Linked DNA regions of Homo sapiens. The protein of the gene in region 3 purifies or fractionates together with the protein of the main gene of each other region. This does not show direct contact. Each region holds a gene or a part of one and is shown on either strand. Other genes may lie near its edges.

The links.
Region 1: the proteins of ZMYND11 (region 3) and SMARCA5 purify together in Homo sapiens (affinity purification with mass spectrometry, with the first as the bait; one large-scale study listed by BioGRID). This does not show direct contact.
Region 2: the proteins of ZMYND11 (region 3) and SRRM1 purify together in Homo sapiens (affinity purification with mass spectrometry, with the first as the bait; one large-scale study listed by BioGRID). This does not show direct contact.
Region 4: the proteins of ZMYND11 (region 3) and TOP2B purify together in Homo sapiens (affinity purification with mass spectrometry, with the first as the bait; one large-scale study listed by BioGRID). This does not show direct contact.
Region 5: the proteins of ZMYND11 (region 3) and AKAP8 purify together in Homo sapiens (affinity purification with mass spectrometry, with the first as the bait; one large-scale study listed by BioGRID). This does not show direct contact.
Region 6: the proteins of ZMYND11 (region 3) and DCAF13 purify together in Homo sapiens (affinity purification with mass spectrometry; one large-scale study listed by BioGRID and IntAct). This does not show direct contact.
Region 7: the proteins of ZMYND11 (region 3) and GOT2 purify together in Homo sapiens (affinity purification with mass spectrometry; one large-scale study listed by BioGRID and IntAct). This does not show direct contact.

Annotation. Positions count from the first base shown.
Region 1 is NC_000004.12:143,548,202-143,551,701, reverse strand, and holds part of SMARCA5 (SWI/SNF-related matrix-associated actin-dependent regulator of chromatin subfamily A member 5), read right to left. Parts: intron 1,706-3,500; coding exon 1,598-1,705; intron 1-1,597. UniProt on the Homo sapiens protein: ATPase that possesses intrinsic ATP-dependent nucleosome-remodeling activity.
Region 2 is NC_000001.11:24,653,302-24,656,801, forward strand, and holds part of SRRM1 (serine/arginine repetitive matrix protein 1), read left to right. Parts: intron 1-1,004; coding exon of another isoform or gene 1,005-1,042; intron 1,043-1,553; coding exon 1,554-1,828; intron 1,829-2,350; coding exon of another isoform or gene 2,351-2,362; exon of another isoform or gene 2,363-2,389; intron 2,390-3,500. UniProt on the Homo sapiens protein: Part of pre- and post-splicing multiprotein mRNP complexes. As a component of the minor spliceosome, involved in the splicing of U12-type introns in pre-mRNAs. Involved in numerous pre-mRNA processing events.
Region 3 is NC_000010.11:246,955-250,454, forward strand, and holds part of ZMYND11 (zinc finger MYND domain-containing protein 11), read left to right. Parts: coding exon 1-19; intron 20-443; coding exon 444-512; intron 513-1,381; coding exon 1,382-1,654; intron 1,655-1,857; exon of another isoform or gene 1,858-1,948; coding exon 1,949-2,134; coding exon of another isoform or gene 2,135-2,155; exon of another isoform or gene 2,156-2,836; intron 2,837-3,500. UniProt on the Homo sapiens protein: Chromatin reader that specifically recognizes and binds histone H3.3 trimethylated at 'Lys-36' (H3.3K36me3) and regulates RNA polymerase II elongation. Does not bind other histone H3 subtypes (H3.1 or H3.2).
Region 4 is NC_000003.12:25,598,908-25,602,407, forward strand, and holds part of TOP2B (DNA topoisomerase 2-beta), read right to left. Parts: intron 2,319-3,500; coding exon 2,193-2,318; intron 623-2,192; coding exon 528-622; intron 1-527. UniProt on the Homo sapiens protein: Key decatenating enzyme that alters DNA topology by binding to two double-stranded DNA molecules, generating a double-stranded break in one of the strands, passing the intact strand through the broken strand, and religating the broken strand.
Region 5 is NC_000019.10:15,366,288-15,369,787, reverse strand, and holds part of AKAP8 (A-kinase anchor protein 8), read left to right. Parts: intron 1-1,465; coding exon 1,466-1,553; intron 1,554-3,500. UniProt on the Homo sapiens protein: Anchoring protein that mediates the subcellular compartmentation of cAMP-dependent protein kinase (PKA type II).
Region 6 is NC_000008.11:103,425,386-103,428,885, forward strand, and holds part of DCAF13 (DDB1- and CUL4-associated factor 13), read left to right. Parts: intron 1-670; coding exon 671-760; intron 761-1,711; coding exon 1,712-1,867; intron 1,868-3,500. UniProt on the Homo sapiens protein: Part of the small subunit (SSU) processome, first precursor of the small eukaryotic ribosomal subunit.
Region 7 is NC_000016.10:58,717,317-58,720,816, forward strand, and holds part of GOT2 (aspartate aminotransferase, mitochondrial isoform 1 precursor), read right to left. Parts: intron 1,940-3,500; coding exon 1,880-1,939; intron 1,373-1,879; coding exon 1,211-1,372; intron 985-1,210; coding exon 880-984; intron 1-879. UniProt on the Homo sapiens protein: Catalyzes the irreversible transamination of the L-tryptophan metabolite L-kynurenine to form kynurenic acid (KA). As a member of the malate-aspartate shuttle, it has a key role in the intracellular NAD(H) redox balance.

The DNA.
Region 1 (3,500 bases), on a different chromosome or scaffold from region 3:
GGAACTCATTTTTGACAAAGCTACCAAGAACATACACTGGAGAAAGGACAGTCTCTTCAATAAATGGTAATGGGAAAATTGGATATCCATACACAGAAGAATGAAACTTGACCTGTATCCCTAACTATATAAAAAAATCAAATCAAAATGTATTAAAGACTTTAAGTCCTCAAACTGTGAAACTACAAGAAAACATTGGGAAAACTCTCCAGAACACTGGACTGGGCAAAGATTTCTTGAATAATACCCCACAGGCAACCAAAGCAAAAATGGACAAATGGGATCACATTAAGTTAAAAAGCTTCTGCACAGCAGAGGAAACAGCAAAGTGAAGAGACATCCCACAGAATGGAAGAAAATATTTGCAAACTACCCATTTGTCAAAGGATTAATAAATAACCAGAATATGTAAGAGCTCAAACAACTCTACTGAAAAAAATCCTAACAGTCCGATTTAAAAATAGGCAAAAGATCTGAACAGATGATTCTCAAAGGAAGACATACAAATGGCAAACAAGCATATTAAAAGCTGTTCAGTATCACTGATCATCAGAGAAATGCAATCAAAACTACAATGAGATAACATCTCATCCCAGATAAAATGGCTTTTATCCAAAAGTCAGGCAATAACAAATCCTGACAAGAATGTGGAGAAAAGGAAACCCTCATACACTTTTGGTGGGAACGCAAATTAGTACAATCACTGTGGAAGCAGTTTGAAGGTTCCTCAAAAAACTACAGATAAGAGTTACCCTACTCCTAGGTTTACACCCAAAAGAAAGTCAGTATATCAAAGAGATATGTGCACTCCCATGTTTACTGCAGCACTATTCACAGTAGCCATGATTTGGAAGCAACCTAAGTGTCCATCAACAGATAAATGGATAAAGAAAACATGGTATGTATACACAATAGAATACTATTCAACCATAAGCAATGAGACCCTGTAATTTGCAGCAACATGGATGGAACTGGAGTTTATTAAGTGAAATAAGCCAGACACAGAAAGACAAACTTGGCATGTTCTCACTTATTTGTGGGAGCTAAAAACTACAATTAAACTCATGGAGACAGAGAGAAGGATGGATACCAGAGGCTGAGAAAGGCAGTGGGGGTGGGGGAAAGTGGGGCTGGCTAATGGATACAAATAAATACAAAGAGAGACTAAGACCCAGTATTTGATAGCCCAACACAGTGACTACCGCAATAAATAATTTAATTATACATTTTAAAATAACTAAGAGTTAAACTGTTTGTAACAGGGATAAATGCTGGAGGTGATAAATACCCCATTTACCCTGATGTCCTTATTACTTATTGCATGCCTGTATCAAAGTATCTCATGTAACCTATAAATACATACTTACTCATAACAACTAAAAATTAAAAATTATACCACTACCTAAATTTGAAAGTGGAAGAATCTCAAATTATGAGCTTGGGTTCTCCCTTAAGGAAAAAAAAAAAAAAAAAAAAGTAAAGGCAATGGAGGGGTGCACAACAGGGACTAACACATCAATGACAGCCAAGCAGTGTTAAATACTTAGAAAGGGGAAATTTACATAATCCACATATTTACATATTCATGAATACTTACTGAAGGCTTTGGTCCTCGTTTCTTTTTCTCTGCCTTCTCCTTTTCTTCTAGTTCCATGTTTTCTCTTTCAATCAAAGTAATTAAGGTATTACATCTCCTCTGGAGCTCCTAAATTATAAACAAACATGGTACACGCACTTTCCATCCACAAGTTTCATGATTTCAATTTTAAAACAAGGTATGTTTTAATAGGATAATATATAAAACCACTAATACACCCCTGATTTAAAAAAAAAACAACTGATTTTCATATACAATTCATGCTATGAAGATTAAAGGCAAGATATTTGTAAATAATGTTTTTACTCCAATCTTTAAAGCCAAACTACTGTGTATTCTTCAAAAATTCTTCCTTCACTTAGGAATTAAAGCAATAAAAATGAACATATGCAATACTGCTACTTAGTGTGTATGTCTGAGAACTACTGTGCTACTTATATCCAAAACTTAAAAAGATTAATAGTGCACATATGTGAGGGTCAAAAACAACAAGAACTTTAACAGGTGTGTATAATCTTTCCCTTCAAAGTATCACTAGAATTATGGTAGTCAATCAATCACATGGCACCTTTCCCAATTTTGGAAAACCAGCCATGGAAGTCTACGATGAGTTCTACCTCATCTCTCTCTGGCAAACTGGACATACAGCCTCCAGAAAAGATTTAAAGTATAACATAGAAGTAGCAGTTAACCCTGAAAGAAACAGAAGTCCATCTGCACGGACGGCTGCTGGGTAGCAGCCCCCTTTCTTATAGAGCAAAATTATTTTTTTCTTATAGTAAGTGATACTACTACACACACAACTACAGTAAAATAATTTTAAAATACTACTGTATAGAATACACCACACAAGACTTAGAAATAGTATATAGAGATAGAAGAATACATTATCATTTTTTGTGCATCTTAACATGGAACATGTTAAGAAGTAACACAGTTTTAAATTACGGTACTGTACTAGTTAAATTAACATGGCACTGTCTTGTTACAATCACTATAAAATTATTCTTTATTAACTCTATAAATTGTTCCCACTTAAGAAGAAATAAGCTTTCAGCAACTGGATCTTTTCTCTAATTATATATTTATACAGTGTTTTATCTTCAAAGTATCTTCATGTATTTAAGTTTAGTACATTTCCCAAACTTGGGTATCACAAACAGTGATGTCTAGTGAAAAAAAATTTTCAGTGGTCAAACATGAAAATACTGCTTACTATCCACTGTCTTACAAAGTGACATTTTACTTTAAATATACAGAGAAATCTTACTATAAACAAACACAAAGATGTTTAAACTTTGCTTATCCCAGAATATCCCAAACTTAAGACTAAAGAACTTATTAGCATTATCCTCATCTGGCAGAAAACAAGTTGAAGCTCAAAGTTCAATGGTGGTGAAATAAGGAAGAAAAGGAGCAATCCATCAAAGTTAAACTTTTCTGAATTCAAATTTTAGGTTATTAGAAATGGGGCTATTTGGTCAGAAACTGTTAGTCAGATATTGGGAATAAAAACAAAACCTAGCACTAAATCAGTGCAAAAGTAGTGTTTCACTATAATAAGCCATCTTAAAATAATCCAGACTCTGGATGATTTATATTAAATAAATCAGAATGCTGATTCTGATGTGCAGATGCTTGAATGCAAGGACCATTTTTCTTTATAGAAATATGTTCATTTGAAAAACCAAAAAGTCGTAACACTCAGAAGTTGAAACTGATACTTCCTCCCACTTAGAACTTGAAAAGCTAGTCTTATCATATAGTGATATTTAAAGACGTAAGATACTAAAGGATAGGACCAATAAACTTGTAAGCTATCCCTGGTATTAGGTTTTATGATACTAACAATATTGTAACAAAAGTCTACTTCATAGATTTTTTTAAAGTCACCTTAAAGAAT
Region 2 (3,500 bases), on a different chromosome or scaffold from region 3:
ATACTAAGTAAGAGAATTGGCCACCTTCTCTTTGGCTTTTAACTGGCTTCTGAAAAGTAGCTGATTATAGGGCCAGTAAGCTCCTTTTACCAGTATTAAAGTAATTCATTTGCTGTTATACTTTGAGAAAAGTATTTTTATGAATTTTTTATAAAATTCTCAGAAAATTCTCATTATAGAAGTAATGAAGCTTATAAGTAATTCAGACAGAAATAGCATAACTTGGAAGTTTTCCATAATCCGTGGGGGAATATATCTATATTCCATAGATATAATTGCTATTACTAGTTTAGTGTCTGGTTATTTTTCAAAACCCCAACTGTACCAGTGTTCTTTTTTTTACATCATTCTAAAATGAGCATAAGATAAAATATTTGAATCTTGGATATATCACTTTAAACAAAAATTAGTGGCTAAGTCTACCCAAAGTAGAGTCCTAGTGCACTGGTAGCAGTTTTTGTGCCTTCTTGCAATACGTTTCACCTGGCTTGGGAAGAAATGCCGATGATTAAGCTTCCAGTTATTTTGGACAGAATTTTTTGTTTGAGTCTTTTAAAGTTCTTTTCAGGGAACCAAATCAATTTGGAAATAAAGAGGGGAAAAATCAAGTAAGCTCTGTAAAGTTACTTTGTTTCTGCAGTCAGGTTTTTCAGAGTCCCATATTTTGAAAATTTTCTTTGGGGAGGGGTTGTTAAGATATATTGAACTATTACTACTGTTGCAAAGAATTGATGTGTTGTGCTCATAGAGGAAATTAGTGAGGTAAATGGTCAGTCAATTTTCAGGCATCACACTTTTCTAATTCCCTTTTAGGAGAAAAGTAATGCTGGTGCTTCCTAGTACAAGATTAGTGGAAACAGCTATTTCTTATACTGGAGTTTTGCAAACAGCATGTTTAAATTGTGCTTACTCAGCCATTTAGCAGTCAATATTTTACAGATTGTTTAAGATTCCCTTTCAGCCAGTTTTTATCTCACACTTAAGGTAGGGTTTCTTTTTTTCAGGTTCTCAGGAATTCTTCCGCCAAAGGTGAATTCTGCAGGTACACATAATTGCAACAGAACTTAACACAAATTTTGCCGCAGAATTCGAGAGGCCCCTGCTTCTAAGTTTATGTAGCTAAATGAATTCTTAGTTTTGCACATCTTTTTTAAAAATGCAACCTAAAGGTTTCTCAACATTGTGTTATTAAATGGAAAATACCTTGCCCCCAAATTTTATATGCAAACTCCAAAACACCAATACCATTCCTAAGGCAGAAGGACTAGTTAGTTATTTTATTATAGCATTCAACCTGACAAGTTTTATAACTGGAGAGAGAACACAGACAGAAGTATTTATCAGATTAAGTTGTTTATATTAATCTCAGAACTAGCTGTTTCCTGGCCTAGGTTATGGTTTTTTCCCCCATTCTTTTGGACTCATTTATGTGCTTAGCTACATAAACTCAAAAGTCGGATTAAAATAGCTGTATTTTTGTGTAAACTGTTCATACCTGTAAGGCCGTTCTTTATAAGTGTGCAATTAGTGAATATGAATACTTTATTCCACAGAAGAAGACGTTCGTCAGCATCCTTGTCTGGGAGTAGCTCATCATCCTCTTCATCTCGTTCACGGTCACCACCAAAGAAGCCTCCCAAGAGGACATCCAGCCCCCCTCGGAAAACTCGTAGGTTATCTCCTTCAGCAAGTCCTCCAAGGCGAAGGCACAGGCCATCACCTCCTGCAACTCCACCACCCAAAACTCGGCATTCCCCTACACCCCAGCAGTCAAACCGTACAAGAAAAAGTCGTGTTTCTGTGTCTCCAGGGAGAACTTCAGGTAAAGGTAAAAATCAAACACATATGAAACATGGTCTCTCTTTCTTTGGCTACAAAGCGTAGTCAGTTATTGCCCCCTGCTCACTCTCAAAGTATGAAATAGCTAGATAATATTTGTATCTAATACTCTCTGTAGGTTTACTTATAAGCCTACCTCTTTCCTGCTTTAAAATCTTGGGGCTTTTTTATGTGTAAAAGGGTTTTGTTTTTAGCAATGCCCTGTGGCATTGCGCAGGTGGAGAAATCTTTTACCAGCCGTGGGCTGTTTGAGTTGGGGTAACATATCAAAGTTTGCGTTGGCATGATAAGGGATCATTTTATTACTATGAGACCAGTTAACTTTTTTTTCTCCTGAAGATTTTTGGTTTGATATCTTAAATAAGAGGACTTCATATTCTCTTTTAGTTCTTTCTTGGTCGCATTGCGCTCCCAAGCAAAGGACATGGTGTCCTCTTAAAAGCTGATTTGTTTTTTTAATTTAGGTTCTAGGCAGGGTTCTTCTGAGTGTTGTCCTTGCTTTATTCTGCAGATTGATTTCTGAGGAATTTATGATCTGTGAACCTGCCAGGCAAGTAGAATGCTGTGTTAGTCTGAGTGAAGGTTGTGGTCTATTGGGGTTTGTTCTGTGAGCATTAAATACGCATGGAAAAAACTGTAGTGTCCATTTGAACCAGGCTCTCTGGAGCTTAGGGCTGGAATGATATACAGCCTAAAAGGTGAGTAGTAAGGGATGGGGAGGATCTTAAAAGCTGCTAAAGCAATTGAGTTTTAAGGAGCAATCTGTAGGTTAACACACGCTGGGGTTATTATGATCATATTGAAAATTTCAGGTTAGAGCCAGGTGTGGTGGCATGAGCCTGTGGTCCCAGCTACTCAGAAGGCTAAGGCAGGAAGATCACTTGATCCCAGAAGTTCAAGGCTGGCCTCAGCCCCATAGCGAGATCCTGACTCTTAAAAAAAGAGAGAGAAAAAATTTCAGGTTAGAAACAAAGAAATGGGGATGGGCAAAATTTTCATTATACATTTTAATGAGCTTGATGAGACCAGCATTGCTAATTATTCACCCTGTTGCCTTATCTCCCCACTCCCCAAGGCTGCAATGTGGTGATACCTAGAAAGGCAAATTTTGCTTTCCTTTTTTGTATCTGTGACAATGAGGCATAGATAAGCTGACAGAGTGAAAGGGTGACCAGCAGATTATGATAGTCTGTAAAAAGTAATGTTTTCTGAATTGTGACATTTTTATTGTAGTGATAGGTTCATTAAATAAGACATGGCCACTTTTGTTGGCCCCTTAGAGAAGCAGCTAGTGAAAGTAGAGAAGCCTGTAACTGTTCCAGGTTCAGTCCTCAGTTTGAGAGAGGGGCTTCGGGATCACTGTTTTCATAACCTCATGTACCATACTGCTTTTCAGCATTGGGAAAATTTCAGTCCATTTTCAGTTACCATGTCCAAATCTGATGCCCATGGCCCTGGCCTATTTTGTCTTTTCCTGTAAAGTTTGTACTTCTGAATATTTATTCTTTGTCTGGAGCCACAAAGCTCTCCAGGGAAAAAAACAAGTGTTTTTACCTGTTACTTTGCAAAAACACATCAAGTGATGATTTTTTTCTATTTATATCATATAGCCTAAGAGTTGCAAAAGTACCTGAACAGAGGGACCAATCCTTGTTAAAATA
Region 3 (3,500 bases):
CTCCACCAGTAATGAGCAGGTGAGTGTGTCTCCGGAAGGAAGTGCCTATTCATTATTACTTTTAAATGCAGAAATCTTAGTGCACACTCCTCACTGTAATGAACAGATTTTGACGTTCTCCTTCCCTTTTTTACATTTGTAAAGTGCTCTGCAAAACTAAACCAAAAGCAGTTCAAATGAATACATAGATGTAACAATCAATGACCTTGACCCTGCCAGTACCAAGAGAGTTAAGTACAAGTGCTCCTCTCTGAAGGTGCGCTGGCTCTTTCAAGCCTACAGTTACCAGAACAGTAAATTAAGTCAGTGGTAACTGAGTGGATGGAAGGATGCAAAAGGTAGAAATGTATTCACTTCTCACCTGTGGGTCCACTATGAGTGTTTTCAGCAGAGAAGTATTTTCTAGTGTCTGGAATAATATATTACTTTTATAATGCCCACAGCTAAAGGTCACTCAAGAACCAAGAGCAAAGAAAGGACGACGTAATCAAAGTGTGGAGCCCAAAAAGGAAGTAAGTTGCCCACCTCGCAGTATCCAGGTGGCAAATGAAACAGGAAATATTTTCAAAGTATTTTGTATTTTCAAAGTATTTCAAAGACAGTCACTCTTGGTGGATACTTGTGAAATTCAGCTGCTGTCAGTCAAATCATATCCATCAAGTTGAAACCAGTCTTCTGACTTCCCTGTCATTATCTGTTACCCTGGAATAGCGTACATGCTCCAAGTCTCCATCTTAATTAAGCAGCCGCTGACCAAAGCTTGGCTAAGTAGGAAGGGCACATTGCTATTAATACATTTCCTGGGAGCTCTGATATTTTTCCTAAGTATGATTAAAAACAACACATTTATCCAGTATATCAGTTGTGCCAACATTTAAAAACTTGAAGGAGACTGTGGTTGAGCTCAGCCGTTTTAAGTGATATAAGCCCTGCATGTTTTAAAACTGTAAATCTGGGCACATTTCAAACACATATTCAGTGAGAAGTGGTTTAGGATTTGAGGAAATGTGTTAATGAATCTAGTCCAATGAAGTAATTATAAGTTGACAATAATTTTTATATTCTATAAATTTCTGTGTTTAGTTTATTTTAAAAACAAAACTTATAGTATTGATAAGTAAAATTATAAATGAAGCTTATGTTTATAATTATTGTAGCTGTTAATTGCATGTTCTTTTCATTCACTAATTGGGGGAGATTTGTTTATTTTTAAATTGTGGCAAAATATACGTGACATCTACCACCCTAACTACATTTTTCAACAGCAGTTTATTCTATGGCTATTATGTATATCACTGAATTTTTATCCGAATGGGGTAGTTCTTGAACTGGTGAATTATGTGGCTTCGTTTGGCGTCTAAACTCTTGTCTCACCTTTTAGGAACCAGAGCCTGAAACAGAAGCAGTAAGTTCTAGCCAGGAAATACCCACGATGCCTCAGCCCATCGAAAAAGTCTCCGTGTCAACTCAGACAAAGAAGTTAAGTGCCTCTTCACCAAGAATGCTGCATCGGAGCACCCAGACCACAAACGACGGCGTGTGTCAGAGCATGTGCCATGACAAATACACCAAGATCTTCAATGACTTCAAAGACCGGATGAAGTCGGACCACAAGCGGGAGACAGAGCGTGTTGTCCGAGAAGCTCTGGAGAAGGTAATGCTTGTCGCCACTGTGGGTGCCCTGCTGCAGCCGGCACTCCTGTCATGGTTAGGCTCCTTTCACTCATGCATCAACCCAGTAGCAGCTTTTACATGTAGCCATATAATGACACCAGTATCTTTTACAGCATTTCAAGTAATAATGATACTTTCCTCACCTAAATTTTTTACACATGTAATGAAGGGGAAAAAAGGTACCTCATGCAAGTTGTGTTAAGTTTCTGTTCCAGTGTAGATGGTCTGTGTTAAGTTGTGTGCTGACGCACTGTGGGTTGTCTTTTCATTCCAGCTGCGTTCTGAAATGGAAGAAGAAAAGAGACAAGCTGTAAATAAAGCTGTAGCCAACATGCAGGGTGAGATGGACAGAAAATGTAAGCAAGTAAAGGAAAAGTGTAAGGAAGAATTTGTAGAAGAAATCAAGAAGCTGGCAACACAGCACAAGCAACTGATTTCTCAGACCAAGAAGAAGCAGTGGGTAAATACCAGTCTTTTTTAGACCCTTATTTCTGAAAATGTACCACAGGTATGATGCCCGTTAATTCAGAAGGTAGCTGTGGCACATGCAGAAGATGTTTCTGAAATAAGATCAAATGTGAAATGGTCAGCTTTAGTTTTAAAAATTTTATTAAAAGTCCTATGATCTCTCAACCCCAGATCCCATATTACTGTGTACTGCTCAGGATTATTTTGTTAAATTGAGATTATAATACCTTAGTACATATTTATTACAATTAACTTATATAATTTCTCCATCTATGCATATATTTTATTTGGGCAAAGTGGCTGGCCCTGACTTTTACCTGGTGATTTCAGATGGGTAACATCCAAATGGTGAAATTATAAATGTAATTATCACAATAAATAGTTTCAGATTTCCCTGCACTTAACATTTATACATTAGATTTTGTTAAAGAAATCAGTTACTTTTACTTTATAGTAGTGACATCTCATTGGTCTCTAACTACCCTCCCTCATACCTGACTAGTATCATTTGTCATCGTGTCCTGCTCGCCAGTCTCATCCTCCCCACTAGAGTGGGAGCTTCTGAGTGCACAGGGTCCAAGTGCTCGTCCTACAGCCGCCACAGTGCTCAGTGAATTAGGGAAAAGTTTTGCTCCCGAAAGCTCATAACTTGGTTTCAGTTTTAATAAATGACTATATAAAGTTTTGTGATAAACTAATTCTTCATTTTATCAAGCCTATATTATATAAATACACATAAGCTTTTCATGAAAGAAATATTTTTAAATCTGTGACAAAGATTTGGCAAGAAGGAAAATGGAAACTTCGAATAGATGAAGATAACTTGGTAGGAAGAGCTGGTGAATAACAAAATAAATATTGTTAACAAAAGACCAGGAGATCTGTGGAGGGAAAAAGAGAACTTTATTTTCTGTTAAAAAAACAACCTGCACATTGGGTGTTATAGCCTTCAGTACAAGTGAAAGCGTGCTTTCCGAATAACTTTTCCATGTTCTTCTTTAAGAAATTTCACTGCTGCTCGTAAGGTTTTGAGGAGCTGACAAGCTCTGACTGGTGAGGGATGGCAGTCGGCAAAACTAGTCTGAGAGCTGCAGCCAACATTTTGTGTTCCAGGTGCTTCTCCCCCCAGCTTCTCAACTCAGTTTTAGTTGGGTATGACAAGAATGACTGAATTTGTGTGATCAACTCTCACAATATCATTAGATGGGAATTAAGGTGTGCTGAAGATAACAGAAGCACAACACCCAAAGACGCCAGGTGCAGTGGCTCATGCCCGTAGTCCCAGTGCTTTGGGAGGCCAAGGTGGAAGGATTGGTTGAGCCCAGGAGTGCAAGGTTGCAGAGAGGTGTCATTGCACC
Region 4 (3,500 bases), on a different chromosome or scaffold from region 3:
GGACCTGAGACATAGAAGATGACTGAATGGAAGAGGTCAATGTGGAAATCAACATAAAAAGGGATGCGGGGGAGCTGATGTCATTCATTTACCTAAAAGAAATAGTGTACTTCTGGAAAAGGGTCAGACTAATTGGAAAAATCAGCCACAGTCAAATGAATTCAATTAAAAAAAAAATCAAATTAGCCCTGGTCAAATAAATCCAAGTTAAAAGGAAACAGTCTTTAGTCTGAAAAATAATATTTTAGTCTGAAAGAGTCTAATATTTAGGTAGCATAACACTACTACAGTTCAGTGGATGAAATGGAAGGTTCTAAGTAGGTTAATTTATAGCACAGTTATTTAGGAAATAGTCCTGATTATATAAATTTATACTTGAATAATTTCTTAACCAAATACAAGCCCCATATTGATACGAGATGCTAGGTGGAAAGCTGTTCCAGGACTATAGTCATAAGCAAACTAAGTCACTTACAGATCTTTTTTTAAAAAGCCATGCACTAATATGCAATGATGTTCCCGGTTACCTTGCTTGTTGTTTTGGATGTTTTCCTGCCAGGGTTATAATCGCCTTCATTTTCAGAGCCAGATGCTTTCCTTTTCTTTGCCCCTCGGCCTTTACCTTAAAATGATACAAAAGGTTTTTTCTTCCGTGGTTAAGTGCAATATAAAAAGATAAATGCCACAACATTGTAGTTTATTTCTTTGGCATGCCCAATCAGTGGAGCATTGCAGTCCTGATCTCTTACTATGAGTGATTATAAACAATTTGGCAGTAGCATTTCAATTCTGGGGTTGACATGACCAAAGACTTTTTGACAAATACATTTAAACTAGTGGGAAAGTCCCAAAGACAAATTTTAATGATGAATCCCTTCATACATAAAACATTTGTATTTGCTATTTGGTCCTTGAGCCTGAAAAGGAAATATCTTGGAAGAGTACTTCTTAAATTACATGGGATTTAAATATTTTTTTTCATTTCTAATTTGTCATGGGCCAATACTTTTAAAAATACCATAGAACACAAATTACTAAAAAATGTAATCACATGCTGTTTTAGTAACACATTATTATAAAGGTCTAAATGTTTACTCCGTTTTACTTATCAAAGACTAGTAACAACCAATTGCATATCCCACATTAAGTGGCACCATATGAGAACCACCAGTATTAACTATAAAATGTCAAATACATATTCCTTCTCAGACCTAGACTCAGCACATGCAGCATTTTTTTTCACCTACCTAACCTCTTATTCTCATCATTGGAGGTGGAAGGAGAAAAGGTAATATTTAAGTAGGGGCCAGATGTTCTCCATCCCACAATGATGCCAATGAAATAAAACAACTAAATAGCAATTTTATATCTTTAAAATCCCTTGACAGCTAGACTGGACAAGTACGAAGATAGACTTAAATAATCTTGGGATGTCATATTTGATCAAATGAATCAGGGAAATAGCATTTTTGAATTTATAAAGGCTTTCAATCCTGCATATCTTGAGTACTACTTTCCCAGTCACTGTGATTCTTTTCCACCCTATTATCCCCATTTCCCTGTAGGTCTACAGCTCCTTATCCCAACCACTCCTTAAAGAAATATAAGAAACACACTGAGGAAGATATCCTTCAGTTGAATAAAAGGTAGAGCAGCTACCCTCACAGCATGAGCTACCCTCATATCATGTCTTACAAACATATTTTACAAAACATCTTCAAGGGCTTTCCAGATTCTGGAGTTAAAGAGGGGATGCCATGGAGAACTGGTGCTGTTCCTTGTGTGGCCCTGAATACAGTTATTTCTTAGGTGAGAAAAAAAGTTCTAGCCTAAGAGTCCTGGATCTAGCCCATTACTATAAGTGTCACAGTTAGTGTGGAGTACTGATCTGACTTTTTAATAACAACTTTCAGTGAGTTGGCTGCAGGGGAGAATTTGGACCATTCTTAGGGATTCTTATTTAACCTCTTTGAGCCTCAATTTTTTAATTTGTAAAACAAAGTGACTGAACTAAATTGCTATGCCTCCTTTGGACTATATTCAGCACTGATTCCTAGACACACTGCTTACTGAGGAGTAAAGCAATTTAAAACAAAATAGATACCTAGCCTCTCTAAATTCAATGAGGTAGAAAAAATTCAATCTTTTCCACACAGCATATGTTTAAAGGGTTATAAGAAGATAATCCTCACCTTTTGGTGTTGTAGTCTTCTTTGGAATGCCAAATTCTGAATCCGAGTCAGAGTTTACAGCCTCTACTACTTTCTTCTGTTTTGGGGCTCTCTTGGGCTTAGGGACTGTATCTGAAGACGGTTTTCCTAGTAAGCAAATTTCCATTTCACAGGTCAATATACTTACCAACAAACCAAACTGAAGAGAGTCCTATATAAATGGAATTTCTTATAGCTGATTAGAAACTGAGTTGCCTGGCTGGGCGTGGTGGCTCACACCTGTAATGCCAGCACTCTGGGAGGCCAAGGCGGGGTGGATCACCTGAGGTCAGCAGTTCAAGACCAGCCTGGCCAATACGGTAAAACCCCATCTCTACTAAAAATAAAAAAATTAGCCAGGTGTGGTGGCAGATGCCTGTAATCCCAGCTACTTGGGAGGCTGAGGCAGGACAATCGCTTGAACCCGGGAGGTCGCAGTGAGCTGAGATTGCGCCACTGCACTCCAGTTGAGCAACAAGAGCAAAACTCTATCTTCAAAAAAAAAAATTGAGTCGCCTTAAATAATGAAATGGTTTCTCTCTGCTTGGCGGCAATGTAAAGGCAAACAATTTCTCATAGATGACAAAATGCTTTTTATTTAATTATGTATAATTTGCCCTTAGGTAATACAATTAAGACATTTTAAGGAAGAGCCATTAAAATAAATTAAGCAGTAACTTTTAAATACAGAATAGTCATGACAAAAGAGTAGCATATTTGATAAATTAATTATAACCCAGATATAACCACAGATTAAGTCCTAACTTTTAGAATGTTTTAGAGAAAAAAATGTATGGGATCCTCGAATACAATGAATAGAAACCAACTCACTTCCATTCAAAAGCTGAAATCCAGACTTGGCATTTTTATGTGGAAAGAAATATAAAATCCTAGATAAGTAGACAATTGATACCAGGCCTTTGCTTTCTGGAATTTTGAAAAATAGACCTTGTTTTACAGCTTTATCTGCAGTTCTATGTGAAAACTGATAAATAAGGCCAGTTGCAGTGGCTTACACCTGTAATCCCAGAACTTTGGGAGGCCAAGGCAGGCGGATCACTGGAGGTCAGGAGTTCGAGACCAGCCTGCCCAACATGGTGAAACCCCATCTCTACTAAAAATACAAAAAATTAGCCCAGTGAGGTGGCGTGTGCCTGTAGTCGCAGCTACTTGGGAGGATGAGGCAGAGGAATCGCTTGAACCCAGGCAAGGGAGGTTGCCGTGAGCCAAGATCACGCTACTCCACTCTAGCCTTGGTGACAGAGCAAGACTCTGTCTCAAAAAAAAAAA
Region 5 (3,500 bases), on a different chromosome or scaffold from region 3:
AGTGTTTTCTCTGGGGCTTCCTTTTGTCCAGTTCCTTCAGTCGCCTGCCCTGGGCTGTGCTGTGGGCCTCTGTGGTGGGGATACTGGCAGCTGCACTGCACATTGCTTCGTGCCTGCGAGTGTGTGACAGCAGACACCTGCGGGGTCGGGAGCACCCAGGCCCACTGGGTCTTTGAGAGGCGGGCGCCCTTCAGCAGGTCTCTTCATGTCCAATGCAGGAGACCAGAGGGTCTGCAGCAACAGCAGAGCAGGCTTAAATCCCTCATGGCAGAGCGGCCTGAGGTGCCGCGGCCTGGAGCTCACCCTGAAGCCACTCGTTTCTTTACCTGTCCTGTGGGTCTTTCCGTAGCTGGTTACCCCAAGGATCATAGGCTGGCTCCTCAGTGGCCCTGCTCCCATCCATTCTGAAGGCCCTTGGCTTAGATGTTCCTCCTGTTCAGGCTTTGCCAGCCCTCTGCGGTCCTCCCCCCCGCGACCCGCAGCAGTCCTGTCCATAGCACGGGGCGCCCCGAGCGCTTAGCGGCACAATGCTAAAGCAAAGGTGACATGTCTGTTGCGCGCAGGTCCTGCTACCTACCCGGGATGACTTTGCTATTAAACAGCAGTCATAGTTTCAGGCAGTGACCTCTTGCCAAAAATCCCACACGCCCTTTTGAGAGGCTTCTGAGCAGCGCACGCCGGTCGCCATCTTCGTGGGACAGTCTCGGGACTGGCATCAGGGGTAGGGGTTACAGTTCAGATGCTTCTCCAACCTTTTTTCAGCGTCCGTCCCTGGCCTCATGCTGGGATGATGGCCGCGTGGCTCTCCGAGGAGCTCCTCTGCTGGCCCCGGGGGACGGACGGGAGGACCAATTGGTCTCTTCCCAAATTTTTTTCTAGGATTGCTTCCCACGCAGCCCTGGGAAAGCCCTAGATTGACGGTTTTTGTGAGTGGAAGATAGAGGTCGGGCCAGCAAGGACTGTCAGACCTGCTGAGGCCCTAGTTCAGACGGGGCCGCCAGGACGCTCGTCACAGTCCACCTAGAGGTGGGATAGAGGGCGGCGGAGCAGCTGCTTCACTTCCTGAGGCCTTCAGCTGCCGCCTCTTCATCCGGGGAGAATTGGCTTCTCCTGTGATATTGGGAGAAGACCCCATCGCAGGGCATGAGATTGGACAAGCAGAATGGGGAGGACAGAGGGAGCAGGGGGCTGTGGTGCACATGGGGTGGGCAGGCTGTGTCCCTAGCCCATCCTGGCCGCCTCAGGCCATGTGGGGAGTTTGGTGACTACTCCGGGCTCTCACTCCAGGCCCGTGTCCACCAGGAGTCTCTGACAGTGCCTTGGGGCATCCTGGACCCTGCCGCGTGGTGCAGGCAGTGGCAGGGCACAGGGTGCGGTGGCCAAGCTGCAGCCCCCCGACCAGGCCCTGGAGCTCAGCTCCTTTGCAGGCCACTCAGAGCGTCTCGAAGGGACTTGTCTGTTACAGGAGAGAAGGAGGACGAGGACGAGGATGTGAAGAAGAGAAGGGAAAAGCAAAGGAGAAGAGACAGGACGCGGGACCGTGCAGCCGACAGGTGAGGCGCGGGCACACGACCCCACAGGAGGAGGTGGACTCGTGCGGTGGAGGCGCTGCCGAGCTCACCTGTCCTCGCTCCACAATGCTGGGGGCCTGGTGGCCTGACTCCTCTGGCCAAACCAGTGGGAGGCAAAACAGTAAACAATTGGGAGTGCAGAAAAGACCATCACTCGTGCTCCCAGCACACGAGCTACCTGTCTTCTAGGATGGCTGGGACGTTGCTTTGGTGGTTAGGTTTCTGTTCTTGCTTTAGAGGATTGGTGTTTGACTCCTGTGTCTCTATTCCTCTGGAATCCCAGCCTTGCTGGTGGGTCTGTGTGGTCCATAACTGCTCAGCAGCGGGCTCTGTTACTCTCCTGCAGGCCTGAGGGGCATCCCTGCCCCCTAGCCTGGTGTCTGGCATCTCAGACACTGTCCTGTGTTCACCTTATCCAAATCCAGACCACCCCTGGAGTTTGACACAGCTAGGAGACAGGTAGAGAGATGATCCTACCATCAAGATTTTGTCCCACAATAGAAAAGGATTGCAAAAATGTTGAGCCCAAAGGATGTCATTGTGAGCACACCATGTGCCTGCCTCTCCCTGCCAGGAGTTAAGTGGCTTCTGACTAGAAACTGAAATCACCAGTGATCATGTGATGCTGGGGAATCCTTGACCTTAAGGTTCACATGGGACAGTGATTTTCTTTTTGTTTGTTTGTTTCTGAGATGGAGTCTTGCTCTGTCGCCCAGGCTGGAGTGCAATAGCATAATCTCGGCTCACTATAACCTCTGCCTCCTAGGTTCAAGCGGTTCTCCTGCCTCAGCCTCCCGAGTAGCTGGGATTACAGGCGCCTGACACCACGCCTGGCTAATTTTTGTATTTTTAGTAGAGGTCGGGATTCACCGTGTTGGCAAGGCTGGTCTTAAACTCCTGATCTTGTGATCTGCCCGCCTTGGCCTCCCAAAGTGCTGGTATTACAAGCGTGAGCCACTGCGCCCAGTCTGGGCAGTGATTGTCGTGTTCAAAGAAATGCTTAGTAAAAGGGGCCAGATGCCGTGGCTCACACATGTAATTCCAGCACTTTGGAAGGCTGAGCTGGCGGATCGCTTGAGGCCGGGAGTTCAAGACCAGCCTGGTCAATATGGTGAAACCCATCTCTACTAAAATTACAAAAATTAGCCAGGCATGGTGGCAGGTGCCTGTAATCTCAGCTACTCGGGAGGCTGAGGCAGGAGAATCACTTAAACTGGGGAGGTGGACTTTGTAGTGAGCCAAGGTTGCACCACTGCACTCCAGCCTGGGCGACAGAGCAAGACTCTGTCTCAAAAAGAAAAAGAAACGGGCTGGGGGCAGTGGCTCACGCCTGTAATCCCACCACTTTGGGAGGCCAAGGCAGGCGGATCACCTGAGGTTGGGAGTTCGAGACCAGCCTGACCAACATGGAGAAACCCAGTCTCTACTAAAAATACAAAATTCGTCCGGCATGGTGGCGCATGCCTGTATTCCCCGCTGCTCGGGAGGCTGAGGCAGGAGAATTGCTTGAACCCAGGAGGTGGAGGTTGCAGTGAGCCAAGATCACACCACTGCATTCCAGCCTGGGCAACAAGAGCGAAACTCTATCTCAAATAAAAACTCCATCTCAGTGAGCCGAGATTGTGCTACTGCACTCCAGCGTGGGCGACGGAGCAAGACTCCATCTCAGGAACAAAAAAAAAAAAAGAAAATCACTGTTCCATGTGAACCTTAAATCAAGGATTCAAAAAAAAAAGAGAGAAATGCTTAGCAAAACGAAGCCAGGAACCAAACGCAGAACTGTTTCTTCTTAAGTGGTACAGGAACATTGAAACCCTTGTTATTTTAAACAGATAAATGGATAGAGTAGATGACTTTTCATGTCACATGGAAACTGAGATGACATTTTCTTTTTAATTATTTTTAAACTTAAATAATCTAATAAAGAGA
Region 6 (3,500 bases), on a different chromosome or scaffold from region 3:
CGTGCCAACAGTTTTGCTCACTGTTGCTTTTTTACTATTTGTGCAGCTGTCAGCACAGTGAAAAGACAAACTATGTCTTTACTAACATTATGAAAATAGTTTTGACTGTGTGGACCCTGAAAAGTTCTCAGGGTCCTCCAGAGGCCCAAAGTTCACAGTTTGAAAACCACTGACTTAGTAGTTTCTGCAGTTCATGCAGAAAAGGACTTTATCTATTTCAATATTATAACAATGCCTTCTCTCCAGTATTTTCATGTTTTTCATTTTATTTTTTACATTTAAAATTACCTGGAATTTTATTTTCACATAAGGCATCAAATTGGCTCAATTTTTTTGAATGACTAACCAGATATTATAATACCATTTTTTATAATCCATTTTTTCTCCAAGTTGAAATGCCATGTTTATCACAATATGCATGACCTAACTTTGCCCCTGTTCTTGTTTTTCTTTTGCTCTACTCATTATATTTTTAGTTTTATGTACTTTATGTATTTGTCACAAATCTTTACTAAAACAAGGTGGGATATAAATGGATCAATAAGTGTAATACTGGAATGATATGGTATGTTACCTGTTTTAAACAAGATACTTATTTGATATGTGTTGGCAAGTTTTAATTTATAACTGTTGTTCCTTACCATCATCATAATAAAACAAATATTTCTAGGTTGGTGATGACAAAACTGTGAAGCAGTGGAAAATGGATGGGCCAGGCTATGGAGACGAGGAAGAGCCATTACATACAATATTAGGAAAGGTACAAAAGTAAATTGACTAATAGCTTGCCTATTAACATTCTTTTATTTAAAATTATTTTATAGTTATAATTTCCTAAGATGGGGAAGAAGATGCAGATAAGAAACGAAAGACTTTAGGCTGTAATTGTTGACCCATTTACGCAATATTTAATGCAGCTAAAGTCCTTTGATGCTAAAGAATTTTAACAGTTTTTTTTTTTTTTGGTATTCATTGTAGTAGAGTTTGATTTCTGTTTTTAGCCAGAGGATACAATGAAACATTTCCCATGGGAAGACCACGGAGAAAAAGATAGAAGTTCAGAAAATGCTTCAGCTTGTCTAGTTGATGTCATCATAGATCTTACACAAAACTCAGAATTTCTTAGTTGAAAGACTCCTTTAAGAAATGAAGAAATTTAATAGTATTATGCATCATGTATAAATCTTATTAATGTTTCTACCAAATTATTCTGCAAATCAGGTGATGGGTGGTTTAGTTTTAGCATAAGAATAATTTAGAACATTTGGTCTATCCATGTTTTATAATGTTTACATTTTTATATTAAGCAAACAATTCCAAAATTAGATTTAATCTTTAAATTAAATCTACCTTTTAAAAATCACTTTGTCGTTTCAATATTATGGTTAGTATATAATATTTAGGTTCTGCTTTAGGTTTCAAGAAGACTAAATGTTCTTAAAGGGATAGGGGAATGGGGTATGAGTATGAGGTAGAGATAATTTGTAGTTGGAAACACGTTAGTAATTTCTAAAACAAAATTGGTTTCATTCTTAAAATGTCTTGTCTCATTATGGTATTGTTTCCCCCTTTAAGTAAGGACTTCAAAGAAGTTTCTTTGTGAACAGGGCTTTTCTCTAAAAAGATAGTATAGATAAATATATTTAAAATATTATTCTGCAGATTTGAATTAGTAATGAAAAAAATCCTCTTAACCTTTTTGCTTTTAAAGACAGTGTATACTGGGATTGATCATCACTGGAAAGAAGCTGTTTTTGCCACATGTGGACAGCAAGTAGACATTTGGGATGAACAAAGAACTAATCCTATATGTTCAATGACCTGGGGATTTGACAGTATAAGTAGTGTTAAATTTAACCCAATTGAGGTAATGTTTTTTTTTAAGTATGTTTTACTTATTATGGCTTAATAATTTCAGTTCTGTTTAGAAAACTTTTGAATGTATGATAGAAACTTCTGAATTTTAATGGTGTTTTGGCATTTTGTCAGTTTTCCCGATTGTAAATGAGTTCTGATACCTTTGCTCAAATCCCAACATGTTTCCCAGCAGTTTAGTCCCAGATACTAGAGTTAAGCATTGTTAGAGGAGTGGTGTGTGCATTTGCCCATTGGGGTAAAATCCAAGTAAATATAGTCTTGTTTTAACTTTAGTTTTACTCATGCCTTCAACTTCATGTTCCATAGATTATGTCATTGTACATTTAGGAAAATGTTAATTTTTCTACCTGCCTTGGAGGTCAGAAGAAGGAGCATTGGACATCATTTTGTCTATTTGTAATTGGTAAGGTACCAATGCTTCATAAAAACATTTGTGATTATTGTTGAACTGCATGGTAATTAGTTATAGTTATATTTTTCTTTGCTCAGAAGTCTGAATTGTGATTCCCAGTTCCTCCAGGCCTAAGGGAAGAGTTGGAGATTGGCCACTACATGTCGTCTGTTTAGGTCTGAATTTAGGAATGGAGGCTGTCCTGAAGGCTAAGCTAGCCCTTGGACTCCAGATCTTTCTCTGAACTTTTTCTTAATGCATAACAATAGATGAACTGATTGTCCAGAAGACTCAGTAGGGATATGTTTTTCCTGTTGAAAGAAAAGGCAATCATAGCATATATAAGCCAATTTTAGCAGTTATTGCGAGGCTACCATTTTAGGTAGTATGAGAGAAAAATCCTAATATGCAAGTGTTATGCTCTTAAAGACCCAACCTGATAAAAGATAGGAAGTAAGGTTGAGTCAAAATAGTAAGGTATAAAAATAGTTTGTATGATATACTGGAAAATGAGATGCTGCAGTGCGATGTGAGCTTGGCCTTGAGGAATTACTGAGAAGTCAGAGGACACTCTTCCTGCAACTACCACATGCTCACACACACACTTTCTAGAGACGCTACAGGTCTAGAATAGGTTGGCAAACTAGTCTGTGAGCCACATGTGGCCCACTGCCTGTTTTTGTAAATAGAGCTCTGCTAGAAGACAGCCATGTTCTCTTGCGTACATATTGTCTGTAGCTGCTTTCGTGCTATGATGGCAGAGTTAAGTAATTGCCACAGAGACCATATGGCCCACAAAACCTAAAATACTTACTCTCTGGCCCTTTACAGAAAAAGTTTTCTGATTCCTGGTCTGGAGTGTCTGTCTCTATTATATCTTTCTCACTCCATCCTCCATCTTCCTTCCTTATGTTTCCCTTGGTTGTAGAAGAGAGAAGTGGCATGGAAAGGCAGCTACCTTTGCAGAGCAGGACCAAGTGTAAAAGTTGATAACATATGTGAACATTTTTTAAAAGTGCTATCCAAATTCAAGATGGTGACGGTATTACGTACTAAAAAAAAAACACAAAAAAACCTAAACAGACACTGGTTCTTACTATTTAGAGGAACAAAAAAATCTTTTGCTTCTCTGCTTTGGTGAACATCTGTGTCAGAAGAGCCGATCACCAATTCTAAAATCGTAATTATTAGGGATGACCTAGTGACCATGTTTTTCAAACTTGCCTGTATA
Region 7 (3,500 bases), on a different chromosome or scaffold from region 3:
CTGTGAGCTGTGACTGTGCCACTGCGTTCTGGCTTAAGGCGACAGAGTGAGACTCTGTCTCAAAAGAAAAAAAAAGAGAGAGAGAGAAAAGAAAGGGAAATGAAAAGGAGTGAAAAGGGAAAACAGGGACATGAGACAACAGGAATAACATTTTCCTCCCTAGGAATTTTGACTAGTGTCTTCTCTGACAGCTGGCTACACTTTGAGAGTGATCATGGCAATGCTGCAAAGGAGAGGACATGAAAAAGTGTTTAAAAAGATCAATAAGCAACCACTGACCAGGGCGAATATAGGCATCAACAGCAGACATCCTGGGGCCAGTGGACAGGTTTTATCAGAGTTCCCTACATCCAGGATGAGGAAAAAAATTATTTTCTTTTTTTCTTTTTTAGAGACAGAGTTTTGCTCTTGTTGCCCAGGCTGGAGTGCAGTGGCACAATCTCGGCTCACCACAATCTCCACCTCCTGGGTTCAAGTGATTCTCCTGCCTCAGCCTCCCAAGTAGCTAGGATTACAGGCATGGGCCACTACGCCCAGCTAATTTTGTAGTTTTAGTAGAGACGGGGTTTCACCATGTTGGCCAGGCTGGTCTCGAACTGACCTCAGGTGATCCACCTGCCTCGACCTCCCAAAGTGCTGGGATTACAGGCGTGAGCCACCGCGCCCAGCCAAAAAAAATTACTTTCAAATACTCATGCGTCATCAATCCCAGAACTGCTAATCACGCAAATGGGGAGCCCTTTTCTGGCAGCTTATCCACCTGTGTGGACATTTCACGCAGGTTCGAGGTTAAGACTCTCTGTTGAGACATTGCCAAATTAAGCCTCCAAAGCTGGTTACTAAACACAGAACTGTCGCCAGTGAGTTCATCGTCCTCACCTTCACCACTGTTGCTATTTCCTTCCACTGTTCCGGACGCGGGTCCACTCCCGTGGGATTGTGGGCGCAGGCATGCAGAAGAAGAACACTCTGCTCTGGTATTTTCTAAAGAGAAAAACAGCCAAGAGACGACTTTGCAGCTTTAAAGGAAATGGTTTATCTGAAATGCCACAGGATCGTCATCATTTGATAAGTAACAAAGGTAACCAGAACCCTGGGAATCAGCTCTTCCCCAGTATTTTAACTCAGATATTGGGACATGGTGGGAGACATCAAATGTCCGCAAGCAAGGAGTTTTATTCACCTCTCTCACCCTGAAAGCCACACTTACTGAAATATCCTCCACAGCGCCTGTGAAGTCAAAACCGCAAGTCTTGGGGTCATAATACCGATAACCTTGTAGCTGCATGCCAGCATCCCTGAAGATGGGTGTGTGGTTTCCCCAGGTTGGTTTGGGCAGAAAGACATCTCGGCTGAACTTAAAAAATCTTTGCTAAAAGATGGGACGAAAGGAAACAGAAAAATGAACAAAGGAGAGGCAAAAAAATGTTGATGTGTTTTATTGAGAGAACATTTTTCTCTGCTGAAACCCAGTTTCTCTCTATGGTTGAGAAGCAGTATTGACTCAGCAGTAAGACTGCCTGGGTTGGAATAGTCTCTGACAGTTATACTGGCCATGTAGCCAAGGACCTTTCTGGGTCTTGCTTTCTTCACTTGTAAAGGGGGTTAATTGTACCTCTCTCATAGGGATTAAACAAGTTAAAATGCAAAAGCTCCCTAGTAAATAGTAAGTTCCTAGTGAACTGAATTTATCATCATCACTAATATATCTTTCCTGTAATTTCTTCAAAGTCCTTTCATTTTTTCATGAGAATAGGACATCTGCAAACTTCACGGAAAGAAGAAATCTACTTCTGCATCAACAGTCAAATACACACACAACAGGAAGCCCTGTCATCTGGAATTTATAATTCTTTCCTGAAGAAGCTTCCAGACTCACCAGAAAACTGGCTCCGATCCTTAAGGCTCCAGTTCCAGAAATGGTCTGCACAGTGACAAACTGAAGGAGAGATACCCACGGTCAGTGATGTGCAACACTCTCTATACAGGCCCAGACCCAGGGCCACTGCTTTGTCCAGGACCTTTCATACTTCAGAAGCTCATTCTTTATGGCCTGTCAGTATCATTTCATGTTACACGGGAAACTTTCAGAACACAAAAATTCCTCCTCAATATGAAAAAGGGGTGAATTATATAAAAGATATAAAAAGACACTGAGAGGCTGGGTGCGGTGGCTCATGCCTGTAATCCCAGAACTTTAGGAGGCCAAGGCGGGTGGATCACCTGAGGTCAGGAGTTCGAGACCAGCCTGGCCAACATGGCGAGACCCTGTCTCTACTAAAACAAAAATTAGCTGGGCATGGTGGCGCATGCCTGTAATCCCAGCTACTGGAAAGGCTGAGGCATGAGAATTGCTTGAACCTGCGAAGTGGAGGATGCAGTGAGCCGAGACTGTGCCATTGCATTCTAGCATGGGCAAAAGAGTGAGACTCTGTCTCAAAAAAAATAAATAAATAAAATAAAAAGACACTGAGAACAGTCACTACATTAAAACATTACTTTAGAATTATACAAAGTAGAATGACTCTCTAAACATCAAAGTTCCTTGAAAAGCAAGTCAACAAGTATACAAGGATAACATTACAACATTTTAAAGGTTTTCTGGCCGGGCGCAGTGGCTTATGCCTGTAATCCCAGCACTTTGGGAGGCCGAGGTGGACGTATCACCTGAGGTCAGGAGTTCGAGATCAGCCTGACCAACATGGAAAAACCCTGTCTCAACTAAAAATACAAAATTAGCCAGGTGTGTTGGCGCATGCCTGTAATCCCAGCTACTCAGGAAGGCTGAGGCGGGAGAATTGCTTGAACCCAGGAGGCGGAGGTTGCGTTGAGCTGAGATCGTGCTATTGCACTCCAGCCTGGGCAACAAGAGCGAAATTCCATCTCTAAATAAATAAATAAATAAAGGTTTTCTAAGAGGTCCCCTTCTATGTGTTTTCATAATCTGAAAATATTCATGTTTTGGGTAATAGGAAGATGCCTAAGGTGAATCTCCTTATTCAAATTGGTCAACTTTAAGGGACAAACAAGAAATTACCATAGGTTTAAGAGGTTTTTGTTTGTTGTTTTTAAAGGTGTTGTAGAAGTACAAGGCTCTACAAAGCACAAATGTATTTTTCTGGACTGGGGTGGTAGTAGATTAAAGAGGGAAAAACCCAACTAAAAAATTATTTTAAATAGTTTGTCCTGCAAGCTTTGGCATGATGGAAATAAAAACCTCACTGTAGGTCCGATGATACTACGATTCACAAAGGCACAACAATTTTTTTTTTTTTTTTTTGAGATAGGTTCGTGCTCTGTCACCCAGGCTAGAATGCAATGGCATAAACTTGGCTCACTGCAACCTCCACCTTCTGGGTTCCAGGATTCCTCCCATGTCAGCCTCCCCAGTAGCTGAGACTACAGGCGTGCACCACCACACCTGGCTAATTTTTGTATTTTTAGTAGAGACGGGGGGGCGGGTCTCACCATATTGGTCAGGCTGGTCTCGAACTCCTGAC